Homo sapiens: one gene and its partner. The protein of the gene in region 2 interacts with the protein of the main gene of each other region in a pairwise test. Each region holds a gene or a part of one and is shown on either strand. Other genes may lie near its edges. The genes, in order: GKAP1 and SOX18.

Region 1 (3,811 bases), on a different chromosome or scaffold from region 2:
TTTATCAACATCTGGCCCCTATACAAGCTAAGGCTTTAATCTTTGAAATAAAAAAGTTTTTAGGCATTGAGTAGTAGGTGAGTGGTCAGCCACTGAAAAGAGTCAAAGACCTAAAGATTACACATAACATACTACGGAAGGAAAATACCTATCTACCAGAAACCCAAGAGTCACAGTTGAGACTATATCTTAAATAGTGGGCATACAATAGATATTAAACGTTTCTTGAATGAATGAAAAGAAGTAACAAAACAAACACAAAGCAAACAGAAAGTATTATGACAAATACTGTTAATCAAGAAAAGAACCAATGACAAACACTCAAAAGACAAAATTATTTTTCTGGTAAAGCAGCTACCTGTGCTATGTCACATCAGCAACCTATGTGTTAACATGTCTGAAAGGGTACTTCTGTCAGAAGGTTACTTCTGAAAAGCTAAAATGGAAAGGGGGAAATGCCCCTTTAATGACCTCTTGTTTGATCAGGGTAAAGTGCAAAAAGAGTAAGACAGTGGCAGCCACTTCCCATTATATTAGACTTTACATAACAGTAAATATTAAAGACAAAAAATAGCACTACTTAATCTGCAGCTAAGGGGATAGGAGATGAAACAACTGGAAGAGTTCAATCATCTGTGCTATGCTATACTTAAAAAAAAAAATAGCCAACATATCAACACATCATCTACTGCAACAGCCTTGACAGAAATCTACATACTATGTCAAAAGGTACAACGACCAGTACTTCAGAAGTAGAAGAGAAGGAAATGTAATTTTAAATGAAAGAAGGGAATAAAACTTAACATGAAAATAATCCCCAATTTGTAAATATGTCTATTATTCATACACATACCAAAATGAAGAAAGAAATGCATGGGATTACTCACTATGCTTATTTTCCTTTCTATGGTTTTTACTATTTCCCCAAATATTCTACAATGACTATATAAATATATATATACACATATATATACACATACATACATACACACACACATGTATACATATATACGTATATATGTATACGTATATATACACATATATATACACATATATACGTATATATATACGTATACATATATATGTATATATACACACGTATATATATACACGTATATATATATATATTTTTTTTTAGACAGGGTCTTACTCACACACCAAGGCTGGAGCAGTGGTGTGATCACGGCTCACTGCAGCCTCAACTTCCTGGTCTCAGGTGATTCTCCCACCTCGGCCTCCAGAGTAGCTGGGACTACAGGCACGTGACACCATGCCTGGCTAATTTTTTGCAGAGACAGGGTTTTGCCATGTTGCCCAGGCTGGTCTTGAACCCCTAGGCTCAAGCAATCCTCCTACCTCAGCCTCCCAAAGTGCTGGGATTACAGGAATGAGCCACCATGCCCGGCTCTACAATGATATTAGTTCTAAAAAAAAAAAAGAAAAACAACCTCAAAAAGAAAAAATGGTTATCTATACTCAAGTTGAAAAAGTTAAGCATAATGTAATCAATACAATATTGATTTTTTTGCCCTGTGTCAAAATTTAGAAAGGGCAACTACAGGTCAGAATTGACAATGAGACGCCTTTGGCCATTCACATCAGTGACAGACAAGTCAAACGACAGAGAGCAACTATCGAAGACTAATATGTTGCATACTTTTAAGAGAACACTACCCTCGTTAACTAATTTTTCAGAATTTTCAAAAAGATAGTCATGTTATGCAATCCAGGAATTCCTCTGTAACTTTTTTTTTAATCTTGATAAGAAGAAACAAATAGGGAGACTAGGAAAACATTAGGCTTTTAAAAGATACTATATTTCAGGTCATGGCTAGGGTTAGTATTCCTTCAGTCTTGTGTCCTAAACTTCTGCATCTCCACATACAGTCACATCTAAGAGATGTTAGGATAAATAGATTCAAACACAGCTCTTCTCCCTCCCTCTCTATACTTTTTCTCCTTCAAATACACTTGGTCTTTAAAATTTAGATGCTTCTATGCTTAGACATTTATATACACATAATATAATTAAGCCATACAATGCAAATGAAAATACAATGGACTGCCAATTAAGTTACTTAAATTAGTCTATGAATATGGTGGCTAATACTGTATATTAAACATTTACATATTATTAAACTACTACACAAATCAGGTTTTTGGTGCAGAAATCTAATGATTATTTTATTTATATTTTTCCCCTCCTCCCTTTGAGTTCCTTTTAAAAATAATTTCAAGGATATCTGGGCTCAGTGGTGCACACCTGTAATTTCAGCAACTTGGGAGACTGAAGCAGGAGATCACTTAAGTCCAGGAGTTTGGGACCAGCCCAGGCAACATAGCAAAACCGTATCTCATAAAATAAATGATAAAACTAATTTCAAGGATAATGTATAGTTGAAGGAAGACAAAATAAATTCACACGATAATTTTAAAAACAGAAATGTTTCAGGGCAAAATGTGAAATAAACACACATTCTCAATATGCAGGCAGTTCACCATAAATAAATATATCTTCTACTATCTTCCATAATGTAATGACTACCACTAGTACAAACTATTAATTTATACTTAAGATGGCAGCAGGCCACACATGGTGGTTCACACCTGTAATCCTGGTACTTTGGAAGGGCTGAGGTGGGCAGATTGCTTGAGCCCAGGAGTTCAAGATCAGCTAGGGAAACATGGCAAAACCCCTTCTCTACAAAATGTACAACAGTTAGCAGGCATAGTGGTGCATGACTGTGGTCCCAGCTACTTGGGAGGCTAAGGTGGTAGGATCACCTGAGCCTGGGGGTCGAGGCTGTAGTGAGCAGTGATTGTGCCACTGCACTACACCTTGGGTTACAGCCTGAGACCCTTTGTCAAAGAAGAAAAAGAAAAAAAAAAGATGGCAGCAATGTCAAAAATATAACAAAGTCTTTATTTTACATATACTTCATACCCAAAAAGCCAATTATTTGACTTATTAAATGTAATAGCATGCGTTAGGGCTTTCTCTAGCAACCCTCTTTCTTCAGATTTTGCATGTACTCCAAGAAAAAACAACTTGAAATTTCTTGAACACACAATTAGTTTACTTGTTCATATCTTTAACTATGCTGTTCTCTTTTGTCTACAATGCCATCTATCTCTTCCACTGAAAACTTCCATTTATTCCTCAAAATCCTGCTCAGGTGCTAGCATATCTATGAAGCGTTCTCTGACCTGTTCCTGAAGTTAAACATTCCCTCCTCTGTAATATTTCCATACTTTAAACTTACTATTATTGAATGGACTCCAAAAAAATTCTCTTTATTGTTGTGCCTAGCCCCTATGATCCTGATTTCAAGATCCTGAAAGACAAGAGTTTCTATCCCTTACAAATACCACAGGATCTGGCACATAGAAGACACATTTATTGAACTTAGTGTTTTCTTCATGTTTACATTCTTCAAGTACACAGCTGTCTATGCAGTGAAAAATGTGCTCTACAAGTAGAAAAAGAAATATGTGAAGTGCACAATAGACAATCCTCAATTCCCATAACGCAGATGTGCATGAGCAATTATTAGCAGTTCAAAGTTGTTTCATTACGGTAAGTACTATTCTAACAAACTAATTGCCACAACCAATTTTGTCTAGGAAGCATATCTGGTTTTAAAGTGTTGATTTAAGCCAGCCGGGCATGGTGGCTCACGCCTGTAATCCCAGCACTTTGGGAGGCCAAGGCGGGTGGATCACAAGGTCAAGAGATCGAGACCATCCTGGCCAACGTAGTGAAACCCCATCTCTACTAAAAATACAAAAACTAGCTGGGCATGGTGGCGCA
Region 2 (4,337 bases):
CCAGCACTGGCTCAGTGTCTGTGAACGAGGTGCTAGGCCCGTGGGGCAAACTGGAGGGACGGGAGATCTGGAGACCAGACTGGGAGACCCAGCCCCGTATGCTGGGACGATGGGCGTCGAGACAGACTGTGATGTGGGGCTTTGGGGAGGGCTGGACACCGACCGCGACAGCCCTCGGTGGGAGTGCCCCTGTGGGGGTGCTGGCCTCAGGGCAGGAGTGCCCCTGGGGACAGTTCAGGAACAGCCTCTAAGGGGCACTGCAAGGCCCACGTGGGGCCCACCCCATTCATAACACAGGCTGGATGTGGCCTAGCGAGGCTGGCAGGGACAGAGAACCAAGAGCTTCTGGCCACACAGGCTCAGGGTCACAAGACCTGTGGCCTCTACCCATGGGGCTCCCGGCATAGTGTGGCGGGGGGAGCTGGGGAGCCTCCAGGCTATGAGGAGATGTGCCGCGAGGTGGCGAGATTCTGACCCTGCCTGGAGGGCTGCTGGGGACACCCAACCCTTCTCCAGTAGAACCATGCGTGGCAGTGGGAGGGGAGGACCTCCAGAGGGAGACCCTCAGCTCTGGAGCCCAGATCCCCTCCTGATGGAGTAGGAAGGGGACAGTGAAAATTCAGGAAGCTGGACGCTCCTCCGGAACCCGCCCCCGCCCAGGTCAGAGGGTCCAGGGAGGGGCCAGTGGGAAGGACCCAGGTAGGCCCTGCCTCTTGCTGCAGCGGTGGCCTGGGCTGGGCAGGGGAGCCAGCAAGCCACTGAGGGTCCCAGCCCCTTCCCCAAGGGCCCTTGGGGGGCAGGGAGGACGCCACAGCCTCTGCGTCCCTGCTCCCCCTTCTCTTTGTGGGCTCCGTCCAGGGCCTCTGCTCTCTCCCTCCCTGTGTCAGCTTTGCCTTGTGCCAGAGTTGGTTTGGGAGTGAGGACAGAAGACCATCTTGTCCCATAAAGGCACTCAAAGTCCCTGGTGCTGACGGTTACACATGGGTGTAGAGTTTCCAGCATGGGCGCCCCTGGGGACTCAGAGCGCCTCCCCAAAGACGGGGCCTTTTCTGAAGGCGCTGCACTCCAGGAAGGACTTACCGGCTGTTGGGAAGGCAGCCTCCCCAGAACTTGGTGTGAAAAAGGGCCCTCTCCTCCCCATGGAGCCTCCCAGCGGGGGGCGGGGAACGGCAACCAGCGGGACACTGCCGCCCTCCCCCAGTTACTGCCCGGGGGTCCGACTCCGTGGGTGGGTGGCAGCTCGCCTCCGAAAGTCTGGCAGCACCGGCCCTCATCAGCAGCCCTTTCTTTCCCACCCGGGGGGTCTCTCCTTCTGAGAGGTCGCGGGGGAGGTGGGGGGGCTGTGCGCGGGGGAGGCCTCAGCGGAATCCCGCCCGGCCTGAGAAGAAAGGGAGCCCCCGGGGAGGAGGCGGCCCCGACCCGCCCCCGCCCGCCCGCCCCGCCGCCGATTGGCCCTGAGCCGCTATATCTGGGCGCCCGCCCGGCCCGAGGCCACCGCCGTCCCCACCGCCATCCGCCCTCCCGGCCTGGCCTGCCCTTGCGCCCGGCTCCCCAGTGCCCGCCGCCCGCCCGCCGCGCTCCCGCGCTCCGTTCCGCCCAGGCCGCGCCCAGCTGGAATGCAGAGATCGCCGCCCGGCTACGGCGCACAGGACGACCCGCCCGCCCGCCGCGACTGTGCATGGGCCCCGGGACACGGGGCCGCCGCTGACACGCGCGGCCTCGCCGCCGGCCCCGCCGCCCTCGCCGCGCCCGCCGCGCCCGCCTCGCCGCCCAGCCCGCAGCGCAGTCCCCCGCGCAGCCCCGAGCCGGGGCGCTATGGCCTCAGCCCGGCCGGCCGCGGGGAACGCCAGGCGGCAGACGAGTCGCGCATCCGGCGGCCCATGAACGCCTTCATGGTGTGGGCAAAGGACGAGCGCAAGCGGCTGGCTCAGCAGAACCCGGACCTGCACAACGCGGTGCTCAGCAAGATGCTGGGTGAGCGGCGGGAGGGCGGCAGAGAAGGGGGAGAGGGCGGGGGGGGCTCGGGCCGGGGTGGGGCGGGGGGGGCAGGGGTCCCGGGCCGCGGGGTGCGGGGGCTGCGCCAAACCCTCGCGGGGCGTCCCGGGCGCACGGAGGGCTCGGCGCCCACCCGCCCGACGGCGTTCCACTCACTGGCGCCCACGGCCCGCAGGCAAAGCGTGGAAGGAGCTGAACGCGGCGGAGAAGCGGCCCTTCGTGGAGGAAGCCGAACGGCTGCGCGTGCAGCACTTGCGCGACCACCCCAACTACAAGTACCGGCCGCGCCGCAAGAAGCAGGCGCGCAAGGCCCGGCGGCTGGAGCCCGGCCTCCTGCTCCCGGGATTAGCGCCCCCGCAGCCACCGCCCGAGCCTTTCCCCGCGGCGTCTGGCTCGGCTCGCGCCTTCCGCGAGCTGCCCCCGCTGGGCGCCGAGTTCGACGGCCTGGGGCTGCCCACGCCCGAGCGCTCGCCTCTGGACGGCCTGGAGCCCGGCGAGGCTGCCTTCTTCCCACCGCCCGCGGCGCCCGAGGACTGCGCGCTGCGGCCCTTCCGCGCGCCCTACGCGCCCACCGAGTTGTCGCGGGACCCCGGCGGTTGCTACGGGGCTCCCCTGGCGGAGGCGCTCAGGACCGCGCCCCCCGCGGCGCCGCTCGCTGGCCTGTACTACGGCACCCTGGGCACGCCCGGCCCGTACCCCGGCCCGCTGTCGCCGCCGCCCGAGGCCCCGCCGCTGGAGAGCGCCGAGCCGCTGGGGCCCGCCGCCGATCTGTGGGCCGACGTGGACCTCACCGAGTTCGACCAGTACCTCAACTGCAGCCGGACTCGGCCCGACGCCCCCGGGCTCCCGTACCACGTGGCACTGGCCAAACTGGGCCCGCGCGCCATGTCCTGCCCAGAGGAGAGCAGCCTGATCTCCGCGCTGTCGGACGCCAGCAGCGCGGTCTATTACAGCGCGTGCATCTCCGGCTAGGCCGCCGGCGCCGCCCGGGTCCCTGCAGCGCTTCCTCCCGCAGCCCCCGCGACCGATCCGACCGCGTCGCTGCCGCTCTGCTCTCTCATACGCGTGTATGTTTGGTTCCATGTCACAGCCCCCTAGGAGCCAGTGATGCTCGGCCTTGCGCCCGTTCCACCTCCCAGGCCACCCTTCCTGGGCTTCTGGGCCACCTGCCCTCGGGGGGCCCCTGCGAGGGTGCCTGGAGTTCCCACGTGTCCCGGGGCTTTTCCAGGAAGCCCGAGCCCAGGACCTGTTGGCAGAGTTGCCAGGGTTACATTTTTGAAGCACCTGCTCCTTTTCTTGCAGTGTATTTTCTACAACCAGATTGTATTAATATTTTTTACTTTGCCCTTTTAAAAAATATACCTAATACAATATATTTAATTTTTAATTAAACTCTTAAACTTTTCTTCCAAGAAGTTTCAGTGATCAGAAGCGTCACTGTGGCAAAGACTTTTGCAATGTGAGGAATACAGATGTTTGCTTTCTATAAAGGAGGAGCCTGGAGCTGGGTCCCCGGACGGAGAGGCCACAATAAATCCTCGGGCCTTTCCTCTGCACACTGACATCTGTGGTGTTTGCAGGGAGGGAAAAGCAGTTCCCCAAATAGCCCTGGACGCCCCTTCCCTCCGAATCGCCCCCAGGGAGCCTGACTCCTAGCTTGAACCTCATAGCACTCCTTCATCCTTCCGTGACACATCCCAGAGAGCGTGGGTAGCAGGCATGGGTCCACACTCCCCCCCAGCCCTCCACTCCCCTCCTGTCCCACCCCCAGGTTAACTCAAGCCTATCGGAGGTCAGACTATACCAGCAATCCTGTCACACCCCCGCTAGGGTTTCATCGCCCTTGCCTCCACCTTAAAACTTCCATGCCCAAGGACTGCCCAGTACGGCCCCCTTTCCTGAGGGAGGCTGGCAGGTTGGCAGCCCACATGCAGACACAGACTCCAGGGTCTCCGTCAGCTGTTCTAACTCACCCCAGGGAGGACAGCACCATGCTACACCCACAGCGCTCCCCCCACCCGGGTGACCTGTCCAGCTCTGCCCAGAGACAGGTCCGATGGCCAAGGCAGGAGAGCACAGGCTTCACATCCCAAGACCCCCCAACTCTGGAGTCGTATCTCACTAGCCCCCAGGAGGACTGGACACCCTCTTTCTTTTTCTTTCTCTCTCTTTTTTTTTTTTGAGACGGAGTCTCGCTGTGTCACCCAGGCTGGAGTGCAGTGGAGCAATCTCGGTTCACAGCAAGCTCCACCTGCTGGGTTCACACCATTCTGCTCAGCCTCCTGAGTAGCTAGGACTACAGGCGCCCACCACCACACGTGGCTAATTTGTATTTTTAGTAG

What was found.
Region 1: the proteins of SOX18 (region 2) and GKAP1 interact in a two-hybrid assay, tested with the Homo sapiens proteins (one large-scale study listed by BioGRID and IntAct).

The regions. Positions count from the first base shown.
Region 1 is NC_000009.12:83,811,233-83,815,043, forward strand, and holds part of GKAP1 (G kinase-anchoring protein 1), read right to left. Parts: intron 1-3,811. UniProt on the Homo sapiens protein: Regulates insulin-dependent IRS1 tyrosine phosphorylation in adipocytes by modulating the availability of IRS1 to IR tyrosine kinase. Its association with IRS1 is required for insulin-induced translocation of SLC2A4 to the cell membrane.
Region 2 is NC_000020.11:64,046,796-64,051,132, reverse strand, and holds SOX18 (transcription factor SOX-18), read left to right. Parts: upstream 1-1,493; 5' UTR 1,494-1,616; coding exon 1,617-1,974; intron 1,975-2,170; coding exon 2,171-2,967; 3' UTR 2,968-3,551; downstream 3,552-4,337.